Linked DNA regions of Homo sapiens: regions 1, 2, 3, 4, 5 and 6 are each linked to region 7. Evidence: fine-mapped QTL for protein levels in blood plasma. A gene starts in region 7. Each other region holds a variant in brackets. All regions are shown on one strand. Distances are from middle to middle.

Region 1 (4,066 bases), 420 kb after region 7:
AATTAATTAAAATAGGCATGCCAATAAGCAGGATCAAATGAATGAAAATCAAGAGAAAGAATGAGTAACAAGAAAAGAAGAGGTGATCCAGATATTGGAACCCTTAGATAGGCTTTTAAAATAACCAATTTATGAGTTTAAGGAAACAGATGAAGAGATAGAGAGTTTTACCGGAGAACTGGAATCTGTAAAATAGAATCAAATCAAAATTTTATTTTATTTTTTGATTTTATTTTTTGAGACAGAGTTTCATTCTTCTTGCCTGAGTACAATGGTGCGATCTCGGCTTACTGCAACCTCTGCCTCCCAGGTTCAAGTGATGCTCCTGCCTTAACCTGTTGAGTAGCTGGGATTACAGGCACCCACCACTATTTTTTTTTTTTTTTTTTTTTTTTTTTTTTTTTTTTTTTTAGTAGAGATGGGGTTTTGCCATGTTGTCCAGGCTGGTCTCGAACTCCAGACCTCAGGTGATCCGCCCACCTGGGCCCCCCAAAGTGCTGGGATTACAGGCGTGAGCCACCGTGCCTGGCCCAATGAAAATTTAAGGACTAAAAAATTCATTAGCTTGAGCTAGGAACTCCCATATATGTGTTTCACAACCACTGAACACAGAAAAGACTTGTGAATTAGAGGATTGATCAGTAAGAAATATCCACAGTGAAGCACCGAGAAATGAAAGGATGAAAAAAACATAGTGTAATGGAGACAAGGGACATAATAGAAGGGTTAAGACACATACAATTGGGTTATACCAAAAGAGAGGGCTAGGAGTGTCATAAGTGCTAAAAGTCAAGGACAGTGAAAAAAATATTTAATTGCTAGAGAAAAAAGATACTAGGTTAAGAAGAATAATGGGATCAACAGCCGATTTCTCAATAGGTAACAGAAAGAGGATTTGTCACCAGCAGGCCCATTCTGAAAGAAAAAGGAAGTTCTTGTAGCAGAAAGAAAATAATCCCATAGGGAAACAAAATTTCAGGAAGGAATAAAGAACAGTGGAAGAGTAAATGTGAAAGTAAATATATATGAATATTGACTGCAGTGTAATAAAAATATCTTGTTTAAAGATATATGTAGCTTGAAAATTTAAGATAAAATGGTTTAAAAGTTAGGAGGGGGACAGTAAATGTAATTAAGGTGTTGCAAGGTCTTTGAATTGTTCAGGAGGTTAGGAAATTAATTTGTCATAGACTCTGAATAAGTGAAGGGTTTCACATTGTAAATCTCTAGGGCTACACTCTGCTACAGTTGACGTTGGCTGCATGGAGTTACTGAGAACTTAAAATGTGGCTATTCTGAGTTGAGATGTGCTGTGATTATAAAACACCAGATTTTGAAGACTTTGAAGACTTAATATAGAAAAAGAGAATGTAGGCCGGGTGCGGTGGCTCACGCCTGTAATCCCAGCACTTTGGGAGGCCAAGGTGGGCGGATCATGAGGTCAGGAGATCAAGACCATCCTGGCTAACATAGTGAAACCCCGTCTCAACTAAAAATACAAAAAATTAGGTGGGCACCTGTAGTCCCAGCTACTTGGGAGGCTGAGGCAGGAGAATGGCTGAACCCGGGAGGCAGAGCTTGCAGTGAGCTGAGATCGCGCCACTGAACTCCACCCTGGGGCACAAAGCGAAACTCCGTCTCAAAAAAAAAAAAAAGAAAAAAGAATGTAAACTACCTCATTTAAAAAATTTAAAAAATACTGATTACATGTTGAAATGAT[C/A]ATATTTTTAATATATTTGATAAAATATATATTTTTTGACTTTTTCAGTGTGGCTATAATATTTAAAATCACATATTAGCAAAGTAATAAAAGAATGGAAAATAAGGGGCTAATAGAAGATAAGTAGAATATTAATACTTGATTCATCCAAAATAAGGCAGGAAAGGAGAGAAAAGGAACAAAGAACTAAAGGTATAGTAATAGATGTAAATCCATATATGTAAAAATCACATTATAGGTAAATAGGCTGAATATTCCAGTTAAAAGACAAAGATTTTCATGTTAAAAACAATAGACTCAACCATGATTTGTGTATAAGAGACCCACTTTAAATGGAAAGACTGAAAGTAAAAGAGTTGGAAAAGATGTCCTATGCGAGCACTAACCAAAGGACTGCTGGAAGAGCTATACTAATTTCAAAGCATCATTTCTCAGTAAGAAATATTACTAGAGATTGAGATTGTCCGTAATGATAAAGAATTAAAACAATAACAATAGCCAAGGCACTCTTAGAAAACAACATTGGAAGACTTCATGCTGCCCAGTAAGACTTTAGAGGCACTGAGAGCATATCATAAATTCATATGCATCAGGTAACATAGCCCCAGAGAATATAAAGGAAAACTGATAGAACTAAAAGGCGAAATAGGCATATTTGGAGATTTTAACACGCTTCTCTCATTAACGAATAGAAAAAGCAAATGAAATTTAGTAGAGCTATAGAAGATGTAAGTAATGCTATTAACTACTTTGTCCTGACTGAGCTATAAAACACTGCACCAGACAATAGTGGATTGCACATTCCTTCTAATTGGCCACAGTATATTCATCAGAATTGGCCACATGCACTGTCAAAAGATTTCAATGAATTAAAGTCCTTCAGAGTAAGTTATCAAAATGGAGGGGAAAATGTGATCTAATCAAAGTAGATGAACAAAAGCATTTGATAAAATTTAACTCCTGTTTATTAGTTTCAAAAAAAAAAAAGCCCCACAGAACAAATTTCTAACAAACTGGGAATAAAGGGACTTTTAAAAAGATGATAAAGGGCATCTACAAAAAATATTTATAGTGGACATTAAGCTTAATGGTGACTTATTGAAAGCTTTCTTCCAGAGATGAGGAAAGAGACAAGACCCTGCTCTCATCACTTCTATTCAGTTTTGTATGTAAAGCTCTATTGGGAGGCTGAGGCAGGAGGATCCCCTGAGGCCAAGAGTTTGAGACTTGGCCTGGGCAACATAGTGAGACCCCCGTCCCTACAAAAAATTAAAAAATAAAGTTCTAGTCAGTGCAGTAAGGCAGAAAGAGAGATAAGAGGTATAAAATTGGAAAGAAAGAAATAAAATTGTTTCCAGACATGAGTATGATGTAGGAAATACTAACAAAGATGCATGTAAAATATGAGAGTTAATAGCAAGTGAAAAAATTTTCAGGATCTAATTATTATTATTGTTATTATTATTATTATTATTATTTTGAGACGGAGTCTTGCTCTGTCATCCAGGCTGGAGTGCAGTGGCGCTATCTCAGCTCACTGCAAGCTCCACCTCCCAGGTTCACACCATTCTCCTGCCTCAGCCTCCCAAGTAGCTGGGACTACAGGCGCCCGCCACCACACCCGGCTAATTTTTTTTGTATTGTTAGTAGAGACTGGGTTTACTGTGTTAGCCAGGATGGTCTTAATCTCCTGACCTTGTGATCAGCCCACCTCGGCCTCCTAAAGTGCTGGGATTACAGGCGTGAGCCACTGCACCTGGCCCTCAGGATCTAATTTTTATTAGCATTTAAAAAATAAATTATAGCCAGGCTTTGCTATGTCTGCAGCAGATTAGACACAGAAAGCCTGATTTAAAAAGCTGATAACACCAAGTGTTGGCAAGGAAGCAGAGAAACAAGAACACTTGCACCCTGCTGACAGGGCTCTAAACTGTTCTAGCCAGTTTGGAAAATGTTGGCAGTATCTGCTGAAGTTGAATAGTCTCCATAAGAATCAAAAGCTGGAAACAACCCAAATAATCATTAAGACGTAAATGGATAAATGAATTGTGATATATAAGGTACTACAAAACAAGCAAAAAAAAGAATAAACTGTTGCAACATGCAGCAGCATGGATGAATCTCACACATGTAATATTGAGCAGAAGCAGCCAGATGCACAGGAGTCTAAACTATGATTCCATTTAAATGAAGCCAAAACAGTGGTGAGATTAATCTATTATGATGTCAGAATAGTGGTTATCTTTAGGGGAACTGAGGGATCCTTTCTGGGATTCTGATTCATTCTGTATCTTGATTTGGGGGAGGCGACTACATGGTATATTCACTTTGTGAAAATTCTTTTAG
Region 2 (4,066 bases), 500 kb after region 7:
TGCTTTAATTTCACAGGTGAAAAAACAAAAGCCCAGTGAGGAGGGAAAAAATGTGCTTGTGATCACCACAGCTAAGCAGGAATGGAGCTGAGATTCAAGTCCCAGCACTGTGGGAACTCAATTGAGGGTAGGTTAGGGTAGACTAGACGGGCGAGGGAAGGCCACATCTTTAACTATTCAGAGGTGAACTTCAGGGTAACAGTCTTCTGAACTAACTAATAAAGTTTGGCTGTGGGGCAAGACGTAGTGAAAAGTATATGCAGTTATCTGGGTTCAAGTTCCACCTCTGCTACTTACCTGTGTGATCCTGGCCTAGCTACCTAATCTCTGAATCTGTTTTTTTGGAAAAAGAGATAATAATAATATCTACTTTACATAATTTCTGTCAGAATATAAGTAAGTTGGATATGGTATGTGAAAAAAATATTTTTCAAGATGTCAAATCTCATAGGTTGTTAATGTGTTTAGCCTAGCTCCCTTCTAGTAATATCTCATTCACTAACAAATCAACATAGTTTATTAATAATGGTTTATTCATCCAGTTAGTCATCACTTTGAAAATCAAATGGAAGAACTTTGAAAGGTAGGTAAGTTTTGATGGAGTAGAGCAGGAGGAAGAAAAACTGGGGAGTTAGAATCTAGGTGGGGAGGGCCAGGTTTGGTGGCTCATGCCTGTAATCCCAGTACTTTGGGAGGATCGCTCAAGCCCAGGAGTTTGAGCCAGCCTGGGCAACGTGGCAAGACCTCGTCGGTACTAAAAGTTAAAAAAAAAAAAAAATGTTAGCTAGGTGTGGTAGTGTGCACTACTTGGGATGCCAAGGTGGGAGAATTGCTTAAGCCCCGGAGGTCAAGGCTGCAGTGAACCAGGATTATGCCACTGCACTCCAGCCTGGGCAACAGAGTGAGATCCTACCTCAAAAACAGAAAAAAGAATCTGGGTGGGGGCATTGCAGGGGCCAGTCCTGAGGAGCCAAGGGCAAGCACAGAGAGGCCCAGGAGTCGGAAACCAGATTCCATACTCTGTGACTGGGAGAACCTGTTAACCCTCTTGGTCTGTTTCTTCATCTGAAGTGGAAGGATAATGACAGTACCTCTGCTAACTTGGAGGCTGCTGTAATATCACAAGACCATGGATGTGAAGAATTTTTAGGGATCATCAACTGCCATCTCCACAGATGGGAGATTATCATTCCTTTATAAGAGTATGGATGAGAGGGTAAGAGACATACTTGAAATAAACCTTGCCTATCAAATTGTCTCCCCTAAATTTATATTTTGAAGTCCTAATCCCCAGGGTGACTGTATTTGGAGATAAGGCCTTTAAAGAGGTAATTAAGGTTATATAAGGTCATAAGAGCAGGGCTCTAATCCAATAGGACTGGTGTCCTTCCAAGAAGAGGAAGAGACACCAGGGATGTATGTGCAGAGAGAAAAGGCCATGGGAGAACACAGCGTTAAGACAGCCATTGGCATGCCCAGGAGAGACACCTCACAAGAAACCAACCCTGCCAACATCTTGATCTTGGACTTCCAGCCTTCATAACTATGAAAAATAAATTTCCTGTTTAAGCCACCCAGTCTGTGGTATTTTGTTATGGCAGCCATAGCAGAACTAATACACCCACCTTACGGTTTTGCTTCCCTTACTCCTTCCCCCAGAACAAGTTCTCTCTTCATACGTAACGGCATTGCACAAAAATAGCTTCTGGTCAGCCAGTAAGGCAGGAGGCAGCGTGACTAATGGGCAGGACCAGGTGTTGGGACCTTGACCAGTCTACTGGCAGGTTGTACTCCTGAACTGCTAAGTGGGTGGAACCAGTTTTGTCTGTTCTTAGACACCAAGTTTGTCTTCCAAGATTCTGAGGCTCGACAGAATGATGAACTGTTTAAAGAGCTTTTAGTCACAGGGAAGGATTTAGGCCCATGATTAAAGCTCAACTTCCCCCTTTCTTATGTCCTGGGTAATTTGAATAATGTTGCCTTAAAAATAGGGGACAAGTAGGCCGGGTGCAGTGGCTCACACCTGTAATCCCAGCACTTTGGGAGGCC[G/A]AGGCAGGTGGATCACCTGAGGTCAGGAGTTCAAGACCAGCCTGGACAACATGGCAAAACCCCGCCTCTACTAAAAATACAAAAAAATAGCTGGGCGTGGTGGCACATGCCTGTAGTCCCAGCTACTGAGGGGGCTAAGGCAGGAGAATCGCTTGAACCTGGGAGGCAGAGGTTACAGTGAGCCGAGATCACGCCATTGCACTCCAGCCTGGGCAACAGGGCAAGACTCTGTCTCAAAAAAAAAAAGAAAAGAAAAGAAATAGGGGACAACATTTATATCCTGATTAGAAGCTCCTAAAGTAAATACATAAGCTTCCTTGGGATTAGATTGTCAGAAATTTCAAAAAACAAATCTGGTAACTGCATTATTCAGTCAACAAATTTTCATGGTCACCTACTATATGCCAACCTCTATTGTAAATTATACAGATACAATAGGAATAAAATAGACTTAGTTCCTTTTTTTTTTTTTTTGAGATGGAGTCTTGCTCCGTCACCCAGGCTGGAGTAGAGTGGCGCGATCTTGGCTGACTGCAACCTCCGCCTCTTGGGTTCAAGCGATTCTCCTGCCTCAGTCTCCTGAGTAGCTGGAACTATAGGTGCGTGCCACCATGCCCGGCTTATTTTTTATGTTTTTAGTAGAGACGGGGTTTCACCATGTTAGCCAGGATGGTCTCGATCTCCTGACCTCGTGATCCACCCGCCTTGGCCTCCCAAAGTGCGGGGATTACAGGCATGAGCCATCATGCCCGGCCAAAAATTTTTTAGACAGTACACCTGCAGAGGGCACATACCATGAATGGAACTTGCAGGACTGGAGGTTGCTCTGGGTGTGTCAGTGAGTGAGTGGTGAATGAATGTGAAGGCCCACGGCATTACTGTGCACTACTGTAGACTTTATAAACACTGTATACTTGGGCTACACTAAATGTATTTTTAAATTTTTCTTTCTTCAATAAATTAAGCTTAGCTTATAGTAACTTTTTGACATTATAAACCTTCTAATTTTTAACCTTTTGACTCTTTTGTAATAACCCTTAGCTTAAAATACCAAAACATTGTACAGCTGTACAAAAATAGCTTATTTATATCCTTATTCTATAAGTTTATTTCCATTTTTAAAATTTTATTTTTGTTTTACTTTTTAAACAGTTTTGTTTGAAACTAAGACAGACACATACACATTAACCTAGGTCAGGGCTATCCAGAGACCCTCCCTACCCAGGGTCAGGATCATCAATATCACTGTCTCCCATCTCCACATCCTGTCCCACTGGAAGCTCCATGCAATAATATGCATGGAGCTATCCTCTATGATAATACTACTTTCTTCTCAAATATTTCCTGAAGGATGTACCTGAGGCTGTTTTACAGTTAACTTTTTTTTCCTATAAGTAGAAAGAGTACACTCTAAAATAACGATTAATAGTATAGTAAATATATAAACTAGTAACATCATCATTTATTATGAAGTATTATGCACTGTATGTAATCGTATGTGCTATATTTTTATATGACTGGCAGTGCAATAGGTGTGTTTACACCAACATCATCAAAAGCACGTAAGTAATGCACTGCAATAGGATGGTATAATGGCCATGACATCACCAGGCAATGGGAATTTTTCAGCTCCATTATAATCTTACGGGCCCACCATTAGATGTGTTATGTGGCACATCACTGTAAAACTCTTTGGCCTGGCATTGAAAACCCAGTTCAATCTGGGCCTCCTACCCTCCTATTTAGATGTCTTTTTCCAACCAAGGGTCATCCCCAGTCAAACCTTTCAAAACTCCAATTCACTAACTAGAATGCTTACTATGCCTTACTTAAATCCTATCCATCTGGCAAGGTATGGCAGGCAGCCTCTAAGATGGCTCCCATGATCTCTGCCTCGTGGTATTCACATCCTTGTATGTGGGCTGAACTTGGTGACTCACTGCTGATAACAAGAATACAACAAAAGTGATGGGATATCGCTTCTGAGATTAGGTTGCAAAAGGAATGTGGCTTCCAT
Region 3 (4,066 bases), 420 kb after region 7:
GGTTACATTGTCAATGAGCAGTAATATTTTGAAAGGAACAGTGGGCTTAAAATGTTCGATAACTATGCTGTCAACAGATGTGCTGTCATCCAGGCTTTGTTGTTCCATTTATAGAGCACAGGCAGAGTAGATGTAGCATAACTCTTAAGGGCCCTAGGATTGTGGGACTGGTAAATGAGCATTGGCTTCCACTTAAAGTCACCAGCTGCTTAGGCCCTAATGAGAGAGACAGCCTGTCCTTTGAAGCTTTGAAGCCAGGCATTGACTTCTCCTCTGTAGCTATGAAAGTCCTAGATGTCATCTTCTTTTAATAGAAGGCTGTTTTATCCACATTGAAAATTGTTGTTTAGTGTGGCCACCTTCATCAGTGATCTTAGCTAGATCTTCTGGGTAACTTGCTGCAGCTTCTGTATCAGCACTTGCTAGCTTCGCCTTGCACTTATATGTTATGGAGATGGCTTCTTTCCTTCAATATCATGAGCCAACCTCTGCTAGCTTCAAACTTTTCTTCTGCAGCTTCGTCACCAATCTCAGCATTTATAGAATTGAAGAGAGTTAGGGCCTTGCTGTGGATTCAGCTTTGGCTTAAGGGAATGTTGTAGCTGGTTTGATCTTTTATTCAAAGCACGGAAACTTTCTCCATATCAGCAATAAGGCTGTTTTGCTATCTTATCATTTGTATATTCAGTGGTATAGCACTTTTAATTTCCTTCAAGAACTTTTCCTCTGCATTCACAACTTGGCTAACTGGCACAAGTGGCCTAACTTTCAGCCTTTTGGCTTTTGCCGTGCTTTTCTCAATTAGCTTAAGCATTTCTAGATTTTGATTTAAAGTGAAAGATGTGCGAGTCTTCCTTTTACTTGAACACTTAGAGGCCATTGTAGGGTTATTAATTGGCCTAATTTTAATATTTTTATATCTCAAGGAATAGGGAAGCCCAAGGAGAGGGAGAGAGACAGAATGGCTAGTCAGTGGATCATTCAGAACACACAGAACTTTATAGATTAAGTTCACTGTCTTATATGGGCACAGTTCATGGCACCCCAAAACAATTACTATAGTAACATCAAAGACCACTGGTCATACATCACCATAACAGTTATAATAATAATGAGAAAGTTTAAAATATTGCAAGAATTACCAAACTTGACCCAGAGACATTGAAGTGAGCACATACTGTTGGCAAGATGATACCAACAGACTTGTTTGATACAGGATTGCCACAAACCCTCAATTTGTAAAAAACGCAGGATCCATGAAGCACAAGAAGATGAAGTACCATCTGAGGTGTGTCTGTATTTTCTTCCATGCTGTTAGGTGTCTTCATATAACCTAAGTTTTAAATTTTGCTAGACAATAACTTAAATTAAGTAATTTTAGAACATTATAAATTACTTCCCCCTTGAAGGATCGCTTGTGATTAGGAGTTTGAGACCAGCGTTGGCAACATAGTGAGATCTTCTCTCTATTAAAATTTAAAAAAAAAAATAGCCAGGCATGGTAGCAATCCTCCTACCTCAGCCCAGCTACTTGGAGGGCTGAGGCAGGAGGATTACTTGAGCCGGGAAGTTGAGGCTGCTGTGAGCCATTATTGTACCACTGCACTCCTGCCTGGACAACAGAGCAAGACCCTGTCTCCGAGAAAAAA[GA/G]AAAAAAAAAATTTACTTCCTCTTGATTATAGAACTTTCCCATGTATCAGGTTGATTAAATGGAGATAATTCAAACATTAAGTCAGTTATTCCATGCCTCTTGGATTCTTCTATGTTTACCTTAATATATAGAGAGAAATATATATACATACAAATAAACTAATAATTTGAAGTTTTTTCCATTTACTTGGTACTTAAAATGCAGGGGGAAATATGATATAGGATGGTTAATCATACATTAGGAAAATTCTTTTTGTACACTTGACAGTCTTGGCTACAAACCCAATTCTCTGCTTTCTCATTTCCTATCGACACTTCTTTGATGATACATATGTATGGCTTGTGGGAGGCAGTTGGCTTTTGTTTCCTGTGAGACAGATATCTATCTGTTCCTTCCCTTTAGAAGCAAAGAGGATACTGGTTCTTTCATTGCAAGATCTGTAAGTTAACATTGGACAGCCTGAAATGCATAATCTTTTGTTTTTGTTTTTGAGACAGAATCTCACTCTGTCACCCAGGCTGGAGTGCAATGGCACAATCTCGGCTCACTGCAGCCTCCATCTCCTGGGATGCATCTCCATCTCCTTCTCCTGCCTCAGCCTCCAGAGTAACTGGGATTACAGGCACCTGCCACCCCGCCCAGCTAATTTTTGTATTCTTAGTGGAGATGGGGTTTCACCATGTTTGCCAGGCTGGTCTTGAACTCCTGACCTCAAGTGACCCACCCTCCTCAGCCTCCCAAAGTGCTGGGATTAAAGGCGTGAGCCACTGCACCTGGTCTGAAATGCATAATCTTTTAAAACTGAAAGCCATATCTAATAGTGTTCTTAATTTGTCAAGAATCGTATGAGAAGTGCCAGTGCCCTTTGCCTGTCTAGCTATAAATGGATGATCATGCCCATCCTTTGGAGCCAGCAGTTTTGGTTCTGTCCTTTGGTCTCTGACTACTCACAGTCTGCAGAAAAGAGCAGGTTGTGACACTTGACTAGTTTATGAGAGCAGAAGCTGTTACGTGACACTTAGCACATACTGCTCCCAGAGGCCCCAGATGGATCATTAATGCTTGGAACGTGCGTGCTTTATGAAGAAGCCGTCTAATCAACGGAGATAGATTCCCTAATACCCATATCATCTTTCGTTAACTCTCTTAAGAGTCACCCTAAAATTACTGTGCTGATCACTGTAATTTCATTAAGCATCCATTACAAAACAAGCCCTTATGAGTTTAGCTTTTATTTAACAAATACATTTTTCTCTTTTAACTTGTGCCCTGCCATTTATCATACATTGAAGCTTTAGAATAGTAGAATATTTGTGTTGAAAACATCTTGGCATTCTGGTTTATTATCAGGTTTACAGATCTGGGACTGAAACCCCCACAAGGATAAATGGCTGCCTCAAGGCTGTTTTGTGAGTCCAGGGCATTATGTAACCAGCTTTCAGTACTATTGCTTTAAGGGTTGGGTCTTCCTTTTTTTCTCTTTTTTAAAAATTAGTGCCTCTGTTTATATACAATTATGTTTTTAATTTAAATATAGGGCTAACTCTAATAATTTTTAAGTGCTTATCATGAGAAGTGGTAATCCAGTTCCCTGCTTCCTTATCTCTAAAATTTCTGCTGTCCAGAGACAACCACTTTTAATTTTTTTAGCCGTTGTCTTTAGGGTTTGATGGTACAAGGTTGATAATACAAGAATAACCAACTGGAATAGGGAAAGTATTTATACTTTCAGTAAACTTTTCTTTGGTTTTAGATTTTATATCTAAGAGCTTGTGTTGCATCACTGTTTTCTTGCCCTGGAAAACCCTAACTGAATGTAATCAGGATGCCCCCAAAGGTTGATTTGAGAGCTTTATTTTGAATGAAAAATCTCAATGTTTTCTGATAAAATGCTAGACCTAGAAATGGATTGGTTAAATCTAAAGAATAATGAAATCACTTAATCTAGTACAAAATAGTTTAAATAAATGAACAAAATATTTTAGTGCTGCCTGAGGTAATTTAATCTCAGATTAACATTGAGAATACAGTTTTATTGGGGGATGTACTTCATTAATATGTGGGCCACTGAAGAAAAGATTGGATATTCCTTACTGGAGATAAGTGGAATTAAAAGAATTAATGGGTTGGACTGGTTTAGCAGGCGTATATTTATGTGTTATGCTTTACTTGAATTCTAAGGTTTTTTTCCTAATATAAAAGCTAATAATTGCCGGGGCGTGGTGGCTCATGCCTGTAATCCCAGCACTTTGGGAGGCCGAGGGAGGCGGATCACGAGATCAGGAGATCGAGACCATCCTGGCTAATATGGTGAAACGCCAGCTCTACTAAAAATACAAAAAATTAGCCAGGCGTGGTGGCAGGCGCCTGTAGTCCCAGCTACTCGGGAGGCTAAGGCAGGAGAATGGCGTGAAA
Region 4 (4,066 bases), 390 kb after region 7:
CACAAGTGGCTGAGAATGATAGCTCTCATTGGCCCACAAGTCAAAGATTTTAGACGCCTGAGTTGCCTGCAGGATTTTGCTTAGCTGCCAGCAAATAACTAAAGCACCTACACAAGTTGTGTCCTAGGCATCTTTAAAAAGCTCTATGTGTTGAAGGCAGAGATGGTAACCAGGAATTCAGGAACGTTTCCACTCTGCTGCTTGGTAGGTGTGCCCTAGTTCTGTCAATAGTCAGCCTTTTGACCTTCTTCAGTCTGCGTTAAGTGTGGTCAGAGCCAGTGCAAGTCTGCAGCAGCCTCTGAGGGTAAGTATAACCCTGTGCCAGTACCCTAAAGCTGTGAGTCCAGCCTGGGCACGGTGGTGTGGCTGCAAGCCTGAGAAAGCCCAGGAGGAGAGACCCCTATCAGAGGGCACTGAGGTGATCCTGGGGCATCAGAGGACAGTGACGCTCCATGTTCCAGGTGGCCTCTGAGGAGAGTGGAGTGCTGCACTGAGAAATGGCTCAGGGTCTTCCCATACCTCCTGAGCTCAGCTGAAGCCAACCCTCGAGGCCTTCTCCACTCTCCACTGCTGCTTTCCAGGCTTATCTTGATGGGGTTAGAGCAGGGCGAGGTTTACCAGGGGAAACCAGCACCAGTGGTGTGTCTCAAGCTTACCTGAGTCACTTGTTAAAATATAGAATGTTGGGCCTCCCCTCAGATCTAATGATGTAGACTCAGTAGCTTGGATATGCCATTTTCACAAGCACCCCAAGTGACTCTTAGGAATAAGTGAATTTGGAATATTATTGGGCAAAGACTACCGTTTAATTATTTCTGTTACCTTGGCTTTTGTGGGTGGAGAATGGGTGTGGAAGGTCTGTAGGCCAAGGTTATTGAAAACACAGATTAAATGCATTAAGATTCTATTCCTGGCTCTTATTTTATCATCTGGTGATGCATCAAACGGTAGTGCCAGCGGCATGGGGGTACATGCCGTCAGTCTATGTAAAAGCTGGTCTCATTCTCCACTTCAGTCTGTTGTCATGCCTTAGTGGAGTGTGGTTGAGACATTGCAAATACAGGAGAAAGGAAACACACTTAGATGAATCTATATCACAGTAGTTGATACTGTGATCGTTTATCTTAAACAGTCATTCAAGAAAAGAACCACTCAGAAAACTAAGAACAACCAAATGATTCGTGGCCATAAAAAGCCACTGTGGTTTTCCAAATTGTGATGAGAGTAGGATTTCTGAGCTCTGTCTTGAACTGCTTTTCTTCCTTGGTTGTCTTATTTACTTAGGGATGAATTTAAAAATACAGTGTGTAATTTTCGTTTAAAAAATTTAAGTGTCTTCATTACTGAAGTTTAAAAAGATGCTGCCTCTTGGAGAATGGCGTGAACCCGGGAGGCGGAGCTTTCAGTGAGCCGAGATTGCGCCACTGCACTCCAGCCTGGGGAATAGAGCGAGACTCTGTCTCAAAAAAAAAAAGATGCTGCCTCTTGCTCTACAATAGTTTTTTTTTTTAAATCTATTATCCTTTAGCATCATGCACTTGCAGGAAAATGTTTCATACCAGAGAAATCTTACTATAAATGCACTTAATCAAATGCTCTTTTGTTGGTATTACCAGCAGTGGAATTAAATGGCTAGGGTCATGACTGGTGCCACCTTAGTGAATCTTTGTAGATAGTATATGAATTAGCTTTATGCCCTAAGCTGAAAAGCACAGATTCTGCTGCCAAGTACATGGATACAGGTAGTTGGAAAGTGCACAGTGACCAGATGAGCTCCAGAATGTTAAGCATAAACCTCAGCTGGCTGGTGTAAATGGTTGAGAAGCCTGGGATTGCCCAGTGTCAGTGTGACCCTATCACCGTGTCTCTCAGCTCAGGCATATAGATGTCTTAAGAAGTTCGTTAGTCCAAGTGTAGTTGTGTTCTGTAAGGAAATTTCATACC[A/G]TTATTACCTGTCTAAATTGTGTTACTTGAGGCCAGAGATTTTTATAAACTGAGTATTTTGAAAAAAAAATGATTTATGTTAAGGGTACATACCATAAATTTGTATGAAGTTAGGAGGTTTTACTGGAAAGCCAAACCTTCTGTTTAAAAACTTTCACAGAATTTTCTTTTTTACTCTAAATCAGATTCTGCCTCAGCTTTAGATCTAGCCTTAGGCCATGAAAGTCCCAGGATAAAATGAGATAGAAATCCTACCCTCCTGCACTTTACAGTCTAATTGGATATTTAGTCACTCCCCCTTCTTCTTCCTCTTCCCTGTGGTTCTTGATAAAAATCAGAACTTATTTTTATCAATCTCAGCTCTTATTTTCTCCCCAACATATTATAATGAAAATTTTCAAACATACAGAAAAGTTGCAAGAAGTTGTGCCGTGAATTATCCACTTACTTACAGCCTAGATTCTGTGGCATTCTTTTATATTTGCTTTATCACAAAGTAAGTTATAATCACTACCCTTCAGCATGCATATCAGTATTTATGGTGTTCTGTCTCTCTGTGTGTTTCCTTTTGAAATAAGTTTAGACTTAACAAAAATATTAGAGTTCCCTTCCCCCAGCTTCCCTTATAGGAACATCCTACATAACTATAGAACAGTTACAAAAAGTAAGAAATTAATAGCAGTAAAATATTATTAACTAACCTACAGAATTTATTTGAATTTTACCAGTTTTTCCACTAATGTCCTTTTTTAATTCTAGAATCAAATTGAGGCTCCTACTTTCCATTTAGTTGTCTTATCTCTTTAGTCCCCACCAGTCTGCAGCTGCTTCTCACTCTTCCCCTGTCTCACATGACCTCAACACTTTTGAAGAATACTTGTCAGTTATTTTGCAGAATGTCTCTCAGATGGGCTTGTCTGATATTTTCTTCTGATTTAAGTTGAGTTTATGGAGTTTTTTTCGTTTTTTGTTTGTTTGTTTTGTTTTTTGAGTTTTTTGAGATAAGGTCTCACTCTGCAACCTCCGCCTCCTGGGTTCAACTCTCATGCTTTAGCCTCCCGAGTAGCTGGGATTACAGGCGCATACCACCACACTCAGCTAATTTTTTTGTATTTTTTGGTAGAGATGGAGTTTCACCATATTGGCCAGGCTGGTCTTGAACTCCTGACCTCAGGTGATCCGCCCACCTCGACCTCCCACAGTGCTAGCATAACAGGCATGAGCCACCATGCCCAGCCTGAGTTTATGTTTTAATGGAAGGGATACTGCAGAGGTGATGTGTCCTTTTCAAGTTATTTTATCAGGGGTACATGAGATTGATGTGTCTTGTTACTTCTGATGTTAAATTAACTTTGTTCACTTGGTTAGGTGATTGGCTGCTAGGAATTAGTAAATATCTTTGTGTTAGTCCATTCTTGGATTGCTATAAAGAAATACATTAGGCTGGGTAATTTATAAAGAAAAGAGGTTTAATTGGCTTACAGTTATGCAGGCTGTATAGGAGGCATGGTGCCAGCATCCGCTCAGCTTCTGGTGAGGCCTCAGGAAGCTTACAGTCATGGTGGAAGGCAAATCAATAGCAGGAATGTCACATGAAGAAAGGGGGAGCATGAGAGAGAGGAGAGAGGTGCCACACACTTTTAAACAACCAGATCTCACAAGGACAGCACCAAGCCATTCATGAGGGATCTGCTCCTATGACCCGGGTACCTCCTACCAGGCCCACCTCCAACACTGGGGCTTACATTTGAGCATGAGATTTGGAGGGGACAGACACCTAGACTATATCAGTTTTGTTCCTTCTTAAACTTTCTCTCACTGATTTCAGCATTTATTTATGCATTTTGCCCACAACAGTTATTACCGTGGTGTTTCAGTGGTGGTTTTCTATTTCCTTATTCCATCTGTAAGGAATTATTTATATGTATTATTCTATTGACATCATTCATTTATATTAGTATAGACTCATGGATATTTGTTCTTTGGATTATAATCTACTACCATTTTTATTTGTTTTGTTGTCAGGTTATTCCATCAGTGGCTGTTGAGAGATCTTTCACATTGACTCCTTGCTTTCTCAATGCACCTTCCCTCCACCCCTGAAGTACTTTCTGGCACTACA
Region 5 (4,066 bases), 290 kb after region 7:
AGTGGCTGCTGGATGCCATGAGCCTGGCCAAGGTCCCCAAGGCAGTGGCGAGGAGGAGATGAGGAGGTCAAGGAGGAGACAGAGGATGGACCCGAAGGCCGAAGAAAATGCCTCAAGGGAGTTTCAACACCGGGCGCGGTGGCTCACGCCTGTAATCCCAGCACTTTGGGAGGGGGATCACGACGTCAGGAGATGGAGATCATCCTGGCTAACACGGTGAAACCCCGTCTCTACTAAAAATACAAAACATTAGCCGGGTGTGGTGGCGGGCGCCTGCAGTCCCAACTACTCCAGAGGCTGAGGCAGGAGAATGGCGTGAACCCGGTAGGCGGAGCTTGCGGTGAGCTGAGATCAGGCCACTGGAATCCAGCCTGGGCGATAGAGGGAGACTCCATCTCAAAAAAAAAAAAAAAAAAAGAGAGAGAGTCTGGCTCTGTTGCCCAGGCTGGAGTGCAGTGGCGCGATCTCGGCGCATCACAATCCCTTCCCCGCCCGCCCCCGGGTTCAAGTGATTCTCCTGTCTCAGCCGCCGGAGCAGCTGGGACTACAGGCGCGTGCCACCATGTCTGACTAAATTTGTATTTTTACTAGAGACGGGGTTTCACTATGTTGGCCAGGCTGGTCTCCAACTCCTGATCTCGTGATCCGTCTGCCCCGACCTCCCAAAGTGCTAGGATTATAGGCATAAGCCACCACGCCCGGCCTCTTTTTTTTCTTTTTCTTTTTTTTATCTGGAGACTGAGTTTTGCACTTGTTGCCCAGGCTGGAGTGCAATGGTGCGATCTCAGCTCACTGCAATCTCCACCTCAGCAGGAGAGCAGGAATCTTCAGTGATCCACGGGCAGATCTGCCACCATTGTGGGCACCTGTTCCTCCCGCAACCTTTGTGCCCGCCTCTCTCCTTCCAGTACCTATTGCATGACCCCCCACGTCCGCCTCCCGCCATTGCCAGCAAGTGCCTCGCGCGGGTACCTGGCTGCGCTTATTAATCCGTTAAGCTCGCTCTGTCACGGGCGCCGTGATGTGCTCACGCGCCCACTCCCTCAGGTTTAAAAGGCGCGTTGCCCGGCAACAGAAGAAACTGCTGGCTTAGCCTTTGGCGGAGTTGGCGGCTGGACGAGGACGCTCAGAGCCCAGCTCTCGAGAGTTCAAGCAACCGACGGTTCCCCACTGCTCCCAGGAGCGGTTACCTGGGCACTCTGTGCCCCTCCTTCCTGTTCGGGCCCAGGCCGAGGACCTGCCAGTAGGGCTCAGTTGCCTGGAGCCCGTTCAGCCCATCCCCCAGTTCACTTTGCCTGTGGGATCTCCCCGTTGCTCCTGCCCGTGGACTGAGTGGCAGGCCATCCTACAAGCACCCGGACACTTGACATCAGTGGTGTCAAGACAACTCTAAGAAGGTTTTCCGTGATCCTGCAAGCCCTGCGTTCCTTCCTGGGATCCTGCCTTCAATTTGATTGCACAGGTACCACAGCAAGCCAGTGCTGTGTGCTCCGAGTTCCAGGGCGTCCTCCAGCTCAGCCACTGCACTGAGAACATGGACTCTCTGTGGGGCCCAGGAGCCGGGAGTCACCCCTTTGGGGTCCACAACACCCGGCTGTCCCCAGACTTGTGTCCAGGGAAGATAGTGTTGAGGGCCCTCAAGGAGAGCGGGGCAGGGATGCCTGAGCAGGACAAGGACCCTAGAGTCCAAGAGAATCCTGGTGATCAGAGAAGGGTCCCCGAGGTCACCGGGGATGCACCGTCTGCATTTCGGCCCCTGCGGGACAATGGAGGCCTCTCTCCCTTTGTGCCCGGGCCCGGGCCTCTGCAGACAGACCTCCATGCCCAGAGGTCAGAAATCAGATATAACCCGACATCCCAGACCTCCTGGACGAGCTCCTGCACCAACCGAAATGCCATCTCCAGCTCCTACAGCTCCACGGGAGGCTTGCCGGGGCTAAAGCGGAGGAGGGGGCCAGCCTCATCCCACTGCCAGCTGACCCTCAGTTCCTCAAAGACAGTGAGTGAGGACAGGCCTCAGGCTGTCTCTTCAGGTCACACCCAGTGTGAAAAGGCAGCAGATATAGCACCAGGGCAGACACTCACCCTCAGGAATGACTCCTCCACATCCGAGGCCTCTAGGCCCAGTACACACAAGTTTCCCCTGCTGCCACGCAGGCGAGGGGAGCCTTTGATGCTGCCACCTCCCTTAGAGCTGGGGTACCGGGTCACTGTT[G/A]AAGACCTGGACCGGGAGAAGGAGGCGGCCTTCCAGCGCATCAACAGTGCACTGCAGGTTGAGGACAAGGCCATCTCGGACTGCAGACCCTCACGGCCTTCCCACACTTTGTCCTCACTTGCAACAGGGGCTTCTGGTCTGCCTGCCGTTTCTAAAGCACCCAGTATGGATGCACAGCAGGAGACACACAAGTCCCAAGACTGCCTGGGCCTACTGGACCCCTTAGCATCTGCTGCAGGGGTCCCCTCTACAGCTCCCATGTCTGGGAAGAAGCACAGACCACCAGGCCCCCTGTTCTCCTCCTCAGATCCCCTTCCTGCCACCTCTTCTGATTCCCAGGACTCAGCCCAGGTCACCTCGCTGATTCCTGCCCCCTTCCCAGCTGCAAGCATGGATGCGGGCATGAGAAGAACAAGGCATGGCACTTCTGCTCCTGCAGCTGCCGCAGCAGCCCCTCCCCGCTCCACATTGAACCCCACGTTGGGGTCACTACTGGAGTGGATGGAGGCCCTTCACATTTCTGGGCCTCAGCCACAGCTGCAGCAGGTGCCCAGAGGTCAGAACCAGAGATCCCAGACCTCCTGGACCAGCTCGTGCCCCAAATGAAATGCCATCTCGAGCCCCTACAGCTCTACGGGAGGCCTCCCGGAACAAAAGCGGAAGAGGGGCCAGCCTCATCCCACTGCCAGCTGACCCTCAGTTCCTCAAACACAGTGAGTGAGGACGGACCTCAGGCTGTCTCTTCGGGTCACACCCAGTGTGAAAAGACGGCAGATACAGCACCAGGGCAGACACTCGCCTCCAGGGGTGGCTCCCCCAGATCCCAGGCCTCTAGGCCCCGTATATGCAAGTTTCCCCTGCTGCCACGCAGGCGAGGGGAGCCTTTGATGCTGCCACCTCCCTTAGAGATGGGGTACCGGGTCACTGCTGAAGACCTGGACCGGGAGAAGGAGGAGGCATTCCAGCGCATCAACAGTGCACTGCAGGTTGAGGACCAGGCCATCTAGGACTGCAGACCCTCACGGCCTTCCCACACTTTGTCCTCACTTGCAACAGGGGCTTCTGGTCTGCCTGCCGTTTCTAAAGCACCCAGTATGGATGCACAGCAGGAGACACACAAGTCCCAAGACTGCCTGGGCCTAGTGGCCCCCCTGCATCTGCTGCACAGGCCTGTAGTCCCAGCTACTTGGGAGGCTGAGGCAGGAGAACGGCATAAACCCGGGAGGCAGAGCTTGCAGTGAGCTGAGATCGCGCCACTGCAATCCAGCCTGGGTGACAGAGCGAGACTCCGTCTCAAAAAAAAAGAAAAAGAAAAAAAGTTCTTGTGACATTTGTGTATGAAATCAGCCTTCACTACATGGATAGGACCAGCACGCTTCCGCGGCACGACTCTGCAATCTTACTACATTTTTTTTATTTTGTATTTTTTTTATTCCTTTTGAGACAGTCTCACTCTGTCACCCAGGCTGAAGTGCAGCCGAGATCTCGGCTCACTGCAACCTCCACCTCTTGGGTTCAAGCAATTCTCCTGTCTCAGCCTCCCAAGTAGCTGGGACTACAGGCACACGTCAAAACGCCTGGCTAATTTTTGTATTTTTAGTAGAGATGGAGTTTTGCCATATTGGTCAGGCTGGTCTCGAACTCCTGACCTCAGGTGATCGACCTGTCTTAGCCTCCCGAACTGCTAGGATTACAGGTGTATATTTATTTATTTAAGATGGAATCTTGCTCTGTATTTATTAATTTATTTATTTGAGATGGAGTCTTGCTCCATCGCCCAGGCTAGAGTGCAGTGGTGCAATCTCGGCTCCCTGAAACCTCTGACTTCCAGTTTCAAGTGATTCTCCTGCC
Region 6 (4,066 bases), 450 kb after region 7:
GGACTGCATCTTCGTGGCCAGAAAGTGTGAGGACTACAGACTGAGGCAGAGAGGATTCTCACCTGGCCTAGGTATTTGGGGAGGACTGACATCAGTGGATGCCTGGTGGCACACATTTAGGTAGCCAGGTCAGACTGTCGGCACACCAGCCACCAGAGGCTTGCTGCCACCTTCCCCTGCGACTCTTGGCAGGTTTGCGTTTCCTCGTTCCTTAATCTGGTCACTTTCCTCACAGCAGTTTATAACAATATCTCTGGGTCATATCAGAGAAGCTGGAAGCAGCAGATGTTCAGGTTAATGAGAGGAAATGGCCTGTGAAAGTAACTCTTGGGTCTGCTGTCCTTTGGAAGGCTCATGCTTTGCACAGACACTGGAACGTTCTGGGCACGTGCAGTCAGAAGCCAGACAATACATTCTGATGATGCAGGTGATGAGAAGTCAGCCTCGTGATCCTCCACGTGGTCTGCTGCTGTGTAAGGACACCTGCCTAGAGCTGTGAGGCTGGACTGACGGTCTCCCTCGCAGGGGCGGCCTGCCCAGCCTGCTTTACTTGGGTCCTTGCTGGTTGGACACATCCTTGCAGCTCTGAGCCTGGGTTCCCATGGCCCCCACCTGCCCTTGTCTCTGAGCCAGGTCCCTGACTTGGTGTTAGGTCCTAACAGTATATAAAGAGGGGTCAGGATTCGTAAAGTGCTTTGTAAACTTTGTAAGATTCTGTACAGATATAGTTAATAATATAATGATAATAATAGTGTTAACATCATTCTGTGAATCACTCATTCCTGGGAGGAGTATAAAGTGCTCCCCAGGAGCTGGACGGTTTGCATTGAATAATAAAATTTGGGCTTTCTCAGTCCTAAAATAATAAAATTTTAGGAAGCTGGCTCTTGGTGCAGTTGAAGGTGGCGTGAAATAATGAAAGTGGGACATGGTGGTGGGGAGGTGTTCTTGTTCAGCTTGTGGTGTCTGCATAAAGTGTGAATTAGGAAAATTGAAATGTGTAGATTCATCTTCATAAGGACTGTTGCAAATAAGGGTAACGGCTACATACCAGCTGAATTGCAGAATATTTTATATGATAAAATACTCTGGGCCAGGTAAGGTGGATCACACCTGTAATCCCAGCACTTTGGGAGGCTGAGGTGGGAGGATTGCTTCAGCCCAGGAGTTCAAGGCTGCAGTGAGCTATGATTGTGCCACTGCACTCCAGCCTGGAGACAAAGTGAGATCCTGTCTCTTTAAAAAGTAATAATAAAAAATGAATTATATATTCCTTTTATAGTTACAAATACTTTAAAATATGGAATAAGGTGCCCCTTAAAAGAAAGTCAAGGCTGGGTACAGTGGCTCTTGCATGTAATTTCACTGCTTTGGAGGCTGAGGTGACATCGCTTGAGCTCAGGAGTTTCAGACCAGCCTGGGCGACATAGCGAAACCTCATCTCTACAAAAAAACAAACAAAATTAGCTGGACGTGGTAGCACGTACCAGCCTGTAGTCCCAGCTACTCAGGAGGCTGAGGTAGGATTGCTTAACCCCAGGAGGCCGTCAAGGCCGCAGTGAGTCAACTCCACTCCAGCTTGGGTGACAGAGAGACCCTGTCTCAAAAAATTTTAAAAAGTTGAGGTGGTTCACCAAGAGGTGGCATGGAGAGCACATAGCCGGCCTTAATCGGCTCCTAATGCAAGATGGGGGCTGTCAGATGATGACACCTTCAAGTTACAGAGGTGTTTTGGTTTGTGGTTTGTGTGTTTTTTCGGAGATGGGGGGGATCTCACTGTGTTGGCAGGCTGGGGTGTAATGGCTGTTCACAGGCACAGTCATACCATGCTGCAGCCCTGAACTCCTGGGCTCAAGGGATCCTCCCGCCTCAGCCTCCTGAGTAGCTGGGACCACAGGC[G/A]CATGCCTGGCAGCAAATTGCAGAGGTTTTTGATGGACTGCAAGTCTTAGCTTAGAGTCCCTGATCTGGGAGGTCAGGCTGAGTCATAACTTTTCTTAACAGAACAGCCCTGCCCCACTCCTGTGCCCCATGCTTCTTTCTCCCTGGCAGAGTTGAGGCTACAGCCTGCAGGGCTGAGGAGCCCTGTACTCATCCCACCTCCCCACACCAGACACTAAAAAGACCAATGCACAGAGGATCGAGGCATTTAATCAGACCACTAAATTGCCTCATCAAAGACATCTTTAAGCGAAACCTGTATTTTCAGATTACTTTTTTTTAACCACAAGTTTGTGGTGGGGTACACTATAGCAATCTCCAGTACATGTGGTGCGTGGCCTGGACCAATGCTCAGGGGGCCACGTTGTTGCTCTCCTTGGCTTCTCACCATCCATCAGAGCAGGTGTCATTACAGTGAAAAGGGCAGAAGGTATCTTCATGTGTGGGCGCACTTTGAGATACACCCTGACTTGGAGGATCTTTGACATGCTTCAACAACCAATGGAGAATGAGTTGCATTTTAATACATGGTGCTTTAAAGGTCATTGATTACCGGCCAGGTGCGGTGGCTCACACCTATAATCCCAGCACTTCGGGAGGCCAAGGCGGGTGGATCACAAGGTCAAGAGATTGAGACCATCCTAGCTTACAGTGAAACCCTGTCTCTACTGAAAATACAAAAAAAAATAGCCGGGTGTGGTGGCACATGCCTGTAGTCCCAGCTACTCGGGAGGCTGAAGCAGGAGAAATCACTTGAACCCGGGAGGTAGAGGTTGTAGTGAGCCGAGATCATGCCACTGCACTCCAACCTGGTGACAGAGTGAGACTCCATCTCAAACAAACAAACCAAAAAAAACAAAAAACAAAAAAGGGGGGGTCATTGATTACCACCCACATCCTCTGGTCTGTACTGTCACCCCAACAGGTCATGGTAGAGGCCAGCTTCAGCAGCCTAGGGTCCTCTCTTTGTATGCAACAGCTAGTAAGTCAGCAAGACGCCACGTGTTATACCAGGCCCAGGCGTGACCACGTAGGGGCAGCCATCTACAGCTGGTGGGTGGGACGGGTTGGGGAGTCATAGATACCAGGTAGCCCTTGGACACAGCCGCCCTGCCCTGGTTTTGGTTTTGTGTTTTGGAGGCCATGCAGCATCTGAGGCCTCCTGCGTCCTCCTTGGCATCTCCTAAGAGGGTCCCAGCATGTGTTGGTTACATGTTTTTCTTCCTTTCCTTCAGAATATTGACATTACAAACTTCAGCAGCAGCTGGAATGATGGGCTGGCCTTCTGTGCCCTCCTGCATACATATCTCCCTGCCCACATTCCATATCAAGAACTGAACAGCCAGGATAAGGTAGGCCATGGAGGGCCAGCTCCTGGCACCCACCTCACAGGGTTGGAGGGCTGAGAACCAAGGGCAGCACCTGCCTCAGCAGGTCACATGCCACAGCGCTGGCTTGCGATTGCCTCGTGCCATCTGGGTCTTCTGGGATCAGGTCATTCATGCTGAGCCCACCAGTCCCTGTCCCACCTTGTGTGGAGTATTTGGTTGGTTCAGAATTCCCCAAGTGATATCATTCCTAGTGGGAGCAGCCAGTCCTTCCTGAGTGACTACATTTAGGATGAAGAGCTTCACCAGGAGGGGCCCAAGAAGCTCCGTGAAGGCAGGAGTAGTCAGGCAGTGCTGACCAGGCCAGGCCAGCCTCCTGCCACCTTGAGGAGGGCTGTCACTCCATAGCCCATTCTGCACTGTGGGCCTTAGAACTGGCAAGAAACACCAACCCTGTGCACTCCAGGGCATGGTTTAATGTTTCATCCAGATAGTTCCTTGGGGACAGGGTCAGGGAAGAAGCCCTACCCAGAGGGCCACTGGAGAGGATCCAGGCCCGCAGCCCCCACCCCAGTCCCCTGCTTCCCCCATGTCAGCCCCCAGCCCTGCAGACAACCCTCGAAGATCCCTGTGGGGGAAGCTCATTTGATGAGTGTTCCTAACTAGCTTTTGGGGGTGCGTGTTCAGGTGCCACAGCATTGGTGCGGCAGAAGTAGGATTCTTCAGGAGTGAGGAAAGAACGGGTGTTGGTGGGTCACTGCAGCAGGTCAGGAGGGGAGGGTGGCCGGGCCTAGTGCAGG
Region 7 (4,066 bases):
TGCAACAAGTCACTAGAGGCTCTTTTCAGCTAGCATTTGTTGAACAAATGCGCAACAGTGGAAAAATGTTCCCTTGTCTTCTCTTCTAATACCCTTCAGTCTGGGAGTGGAGAGGCCCTGCGGCTCAGAAAAGGCTGGAAGATGAGAGGTGGGGGGACATGTTCTGTCAGCCCCTGCTCATCCCGGTCACACCCCAAGCTGTACCTTCTCCCCAGATACCTCTCCTTTCTTTCTTTCCTTTTTTTTTGAGACGGAGTCTCCCTCTGTCGCCCAGGCTGGAGTGGGCTCCCTCTGTCACCCAGGCTGGAGTGCAGTGGTGCTATCTCTGCTCATTGCAAGCTCCGCCTCCTGGGTTCACGCCATTCTCCTGCCTCAGCCTCCCCAGTAGCTGGGACTACAGGCGGCCGCCACCACGCCCTGCTAATGTTTTGTATTTTTAGTAGAGACAGGGTTTCACCGTGTTACCCAGGATGGTCTCGATCTCCTGACCTCGTGATCCGCCCACCTCGGCCTCCCAAAGTGCTGGGATTACAGGCGTAAACCACCGCGCCCGGCCTTTTTGAGACGGAGTCTAGCTCTGTCGCCCAGGCTGGAGTGCAGTGGCGCGATCTCAGCACACTGCAAGCTCCGCTTCCTGGGTTCACACCATTCTCCTGCCTCAGCCTCCAGAGTAGCTGGGACTACAGACGCCCGCCACCACGCCCGGTTAATTTTTTTTCCATTTTTAGTAGAGACGGTGTTTCACGGTGTTAGCCAGGATGGTCTCGGTCTCCTGACCTCGTGATCCGCCCGCCTTGGCCTCCCGAAGTGCCGGGATGACAGGCGTGAGCCACCGCGCCCGGCCAGATCCCTCGCCTTTCCCCTCCCTCGCTGCCCCATGGGGTATGGGAGGGCCACTGGGGCCCGGGGCCAGTGGGGAGAGCCAAGGTCACATGGGCTCCGGATGCGGTGAGGGGTGAGGGAAGGAGGGCACCTTTCGGTCAAGATGAAATCACCATCCTTGAGCGTCGGCAGTTTCCCCAGGCTGTTGATCTGCAAGAACTCCTTGCTCTTGTGCTGCCCTGAAGAGGAAGAAGTCAGAAAAGGTCTTCAGAATAAAAACGCTGCACCTCTACACCCTCCCTCCTCCTCCCCAAGCGGAGCCCCACAGCCCTGAGAAACAGCAAGGTCTGGGACTAGAGGCCTGGATCAGCCTCACTCCCTGGCTGGGCCTCCCTGCCCTGCCACATTCCGGGGCAGCTGGGGGGCTTTGGTGGGTGGGGCCAGGTGCAGCAGGTGGATAAAGAGAAGTTTTCTAGCCGGACTCTGGTGGGCCAGGGGAGGGGAGGCAAACTGGGGTGGCTCATCTCTTCCCATCTCTTAATTCTCACAACAGCATGTCCTTCTTCCCAAGGTCTTCTGGGCTTTGTGAATTTATATGCGTGCATTCCACGCAAGAACTCTGTCAACTCCATTCAGTATTTTCTTTCCATCCCTACAGAGCAGAAGGTAACATTATCCTCCTTTTCAGAAGGCAAGCTAAGGTTCAGAGAGGCTGTGATCCCTCCAAGGCCACTCAGTCCACAGCATTCTCTGGTGGCAGACGCTGCAGGAGGAGGTGAGGGGGCTGTGCGGGCGGCGAGACGCTCAGGGCAGAGCAGGGCGGGGGCCTGGGGGTGCACTGGGTTTGTGGACACGCGGGGAAACGGGCTGGGCCCACCTTTGACCAAATCCACGGTGCGCAGCTCTAAGGGGATGCCATTCTTCTTGGCGAAGATGTAGACGGCGCGGCTGGGCTGGGACACCAGGTCAAGAAACAGCTCTAGGCCCATGGCGGGGGCGGCAAGGACAGCGGGGATGGCAGTGAAGGCGCTGAGCGCGGTGTGGGCAGCAGCTGTGGCAGGATCCCGGCGCGCCGGGAAATAGGGGATCAGGCCCCACCCCCTGGGGACAGCACCCAATTGGAGCGCACCACCCCCGGACCCGCCTCGCCCCTTCGGTTCCTGTCCAGTCCTGCCGGCCAAGACTCCACCACCAGATCCGTGCGTCCCTACAGGGAGGGCGGTCGCTATGAACGCACAGCTGGGAGGGTGGAGTTGGAGCTGGGGACCCTCGACTGGCAGGGAGGACGCGGATGCAGGGGGCCGACTGCAAGGGGAAGGGGAACCGGCTGGACAGGGAGAAGCAGGTCTGCTTTTCGGGATCCCGGTGCCAGGGACCCTGCCCAGTTCCAGGCGTCGCCCTGACCCAGAAACGACTGGGCGCCGCCGTCCTGGAAAGGCCCCAGCGCACGGACATCTGAGGGTTCGTTCAGAGCTCTGTTTCTCGGCGCTGCATGGTGGCGGAAGGGAGGGAGCGAATGGGATCCCCTAAAAGGGATCTTAGAGTTTCACCCAGTGGGATGTGACACTTGCAGGTGTCCCAAACTGGTGGGAACCTTGACTGGAAGGCTGGGGTTAAGGATGAACTTTCTGCCGTCCAGACTGTCCCCTGCAGAGCAGCTGCTGCCAGACAGCGGGAGCTGCCAGACAGCGGGAGCTCCCACTTCGTGCACAGGATGGGGGCAGGGAGCCCGCAGCCGCGGGAGGCAGGAATGACTGTCCGGGAACCTCCTTTCTTCTCCCTGAATCCCAGCCCTGGCATCTCACCAGGGGGCACAGTGATGGTCCAGGGCTGGGCCCGGGACTCTAGCTGAATCTTTCAGAGTATCCCATCCCTCTGGCCAGTGGCCCAAGCGAGTGAACCAGAATGCTTCCTTGGGAGTTTTGAAACTGGAACTGGAGAGAGGAGCTCCCTATGGGGAGGTAAACGGGAGCTGGGGCCACCTGTAGTGACATTTCCTGAGTTCGAGGAGTAGACGAGACTGAGAGAGAAAAGCTGACTCAGAGAAAGGGAGTGATAACAGGGCATGCTGGCCCACACCTGCAATCCCAGTTACTCTCACGGGATCTGTTTCTCTGATGTCTGGGTATGAAAGGACTTTCTAAGCCTCAGAACAGTGGGAGAACTCAACAAAGAAAAAACCAATACATATACAAGGTTACTTTGTGGAGGAAAAAATGGATTAACCTTAAGCAAAAAACTGGGAAGGATCTCGGTAAAAGATACGTCAGAAGGAAGTAATGTCCTTTAAGATGTTCTTAGAAACCCATCAGACAGGTAGGGTGTGGTGGTTCACGCCTGTAATCCCTGTACTTTGGGAGGCAGAGATGGGCGGATCAGTTGAGGTCAGGAGTTTGAGACCAGCCTGGGCAACACGGTGAAGCCCCGTCTCTACTAAAAATACAAAAATTAGCTGGGTGCGGTGGCACACTCGGGAGGCTGAGACAGGAGAATCACTTGAACCTTGGAGGCAGAGGTTTCAGTGAGCTGAGATCATACCACTGCACTCCAGCCGGGCCACTGAGCGAGACTGTCTCAAAACAAACAAACGAACAAACAAAAAGAAGAGAAACTCATCAGACGAAGACACAGGAAAAAAATGAGCGAAGGAAATCAGCAGAGGTTTCATTGAAGGACAAAGAGAAATGGTCAATACATGGATGAAAACATGTTTAACTTCAGTAATAATCAAGGAAGCACACACCAACACAACATGCACATACTGTTTTTATTTATCAAAGGCACACATATTTTTGAAATGAGTACTCCTAATTAATATGTACAGAGCACTTACCCAGTGCCCAGCACAGGGGTGGCACCCTGTGTGTGAGACAGCATGAAACAGGTAGACACGCGCCCTGCTGAAAGTAAGGGACCGCCTCTCTGGAGGATCCATCGGGCAATAAGGAGGTTTCCACACCTTAACTGTGTCTGCCTTGACCTCTGGGGCCTGGGAGCAGAGCCCCCTCCAGCTGGTGGGGAAGGAAGCGTGGTGTGTTTGAGGACAGAATGGAGAGAAGTTGAGTAGAGCAAGTGTAGACTCTTCCTATCCAAAGTGTGGTCAATGGACTGGGAGTATCAGCATCACCAGGGAGCTTGTTGGAAATGCAGAGGCTCAGGCCCCACTCTGACCTTACTGATTGGGAGCATAAACTGTAACCAGATTCCAGGGAGGATTCATACACACATTCCCGTTTGATAAGTG

Alleles and levels. Alleles are on the strand shown, and positions count from the first base shown. The strength of an association depends on the size of the effect and on how common the allele is.
For the plasma level of the protein whose gene starts at base 1,875 in region 7, C is the low allele of the variant in region 1 and A is the other (moderate association).
For the plasma level of the protein whose gene starts at base 1,875 in region 7, A is the high allele of the variant in region 2 and G is the other (moderate association).
With allele GA in place of G in region 3, the plasma level of the protein whose gene starts at base 1,875 in region 7 is lower (moderate association).
With allele G in place of A in region 4, the plasma level of the protein whose gene starts at base 1,875 in region 7 is higher (moderate association).
In carriers of allele G in region 5, the plasma level of the protein whose gene starts at base 1,875 in region 7 tends to be lower than with A alone (moderate association).
For the plasma level of the protein whose gene starts at base 1,875 in region 7, allele A in region 6 goes with a higher level than allele G (moderate association).

The links. PIP is the posterior inclusion probability: the model's chance that the variant is causal. Protein levels are from antibody-based Olink assays in UK Biobank. Linkage for the fine-mapping came from a reference panel and not from the study's own genotypes, which makes the PIPs less certain.
Region 1: its variant is fine-mapped to the plasma level of the GSTT2B protein (UK Biobank, PIP above 0.99).
Region 2: its variant is fine-mapped to the plasma level of the GSTT2B protein (UK Biobank, PIP above 0.99).
Region 3: its variant is fine-mapped to the plasma level of the GSTT2B protein (UK Biobank, PIP above 0.99).
Region 4: its variant is fine-mapped to the plasma level of the GSTT2B protein (UK Biobank, PIP above 0.99).
Region 5: its variant is fine-mapped to the plasma level of the GSTT2B protein (UK Biobank, PIP above 0.99).
Region 6: its variant is fine-mapped to the plasma level of the GSTT2B protein (UK Biobank, PIP above 0.99).

Annotation. Positions count from the first base shown.
Region 1 is chr22:24,383,422-24,387,487 of GRCh38, forward strand. All of the region lies in intron 14 of SPECC1L (sperm antigen with calponin homology and coiled-coil domains 1 like), which reads left to right. The region is part of intron 15 of SPECC1L-ADORA2A (SPECC1L-ADORA2A readthrough (NMD candidate)); the gene reads left to right. Among named protein-coding and RNA genes, the nearest start is that of ADORA2A, 42 kb to the right of the region's middle. The variant C/A (reference allele first, on the strand shown) is at 1,721.
Region 2 is chr22:24,461,786-24,465,851 of GRCh38, forward strand. The region is part of intron 3 of ADORA2A-AS1 (ADORA2A antisense RNA 1); the gene reads right to left. Among named protein-coding and RNA genes, the nearest start is that of ADORA2A-AS1, 31 kb to the right of the region's middle. The variant G/A (reference allele first, on the strand shown) is at 2,050.
Region 3 is chr22:24,377,741-24,381,806 of GRCh38, forward strand. The region is part of intron 14 of SPECC1L (sperm antigen with calponin homology and coiled-coil domains 1 like); the gene reads left to right. The region is part of intron 15 of SPECC1L-ADORA2A (SPECC1L-ADORA2A readthrough (NMD candidate)); the gene reads left to right. Among named protein-coding and RNA genes, the nearest start is that of ADORA2A, 48 kb to the right of the region's middle. The variant GA/G (reference allele first, on the strand shown) is at 1,650.
Region 4 is chr22:24,350,526-24,354,591 of GRCh38, forward strand. The region is part of intron 11 of SPECC1L (sperm antigen with calponin homology and coiled-coil domains 1 like); the gene reads left to right. The region is part of intron 12 of SPECC1L-ADORA2A (SPECC1L-ADORA2A readthrough (NMD candidate)); the gene reads left to right. Among named protein-coding and RNA genes, the nearest start is that of ADORA2A, 75 kb to the right of the region's middle. The variant A/G (reference allele first, on the strand shown) is at 1,945.
Region 5 is chr22:24,250,471-24,254,536 of GRCh38, forward strand. It overlaps the pseudogene POM121L9P. Among named protein-coding and RNA genes, the nearest start is that of GGT5, 7.4 kb to the left of the region's middle. RefSeq lists an enhancer at 1,111-1,611. The variant G/A (reference allele first, on the strand shown) is at 2,216.
Region 6 is chr22:24,408,415-24,412,480 of GRCh38, forward strand. SPECC1L (sperm antigen with calponin homology and coiled-coil domains 1 like) reads left to right here. Exons shown (of 17, transcript NM_015330.6): 15 at 3,174-3,290. It overlaps SPECC1L-ADORA2A (SPECC1L-ADORA2A readthrough (NMD candidate)), which reads left to right. Exons shown (of 20, transcript NR_103546.1): 16 at 3,174-3,290. Among named protein-coding and RNA genes, the nearest start is that of ADORA2A, 17 kb to the right of the region's middle. RefSeq lists enhancers at 1-476, 477-976. The variant G/A (reference allele first, on the strand shown) is at 1,900.
Region 7 is chr22:23,959,321-23,963,386 of GRCh38, forward strand. GSTT2B (glutathione S-transferase theta 2B) reads right to left here and starts at 1,875. Exons shown (of 5, transcript NM_001080843.4): 1 at 1,700-1,875; 2 at 974-1,061. The coding sequence starts at 1,811. RefSeq lists an enhancer at 96-761.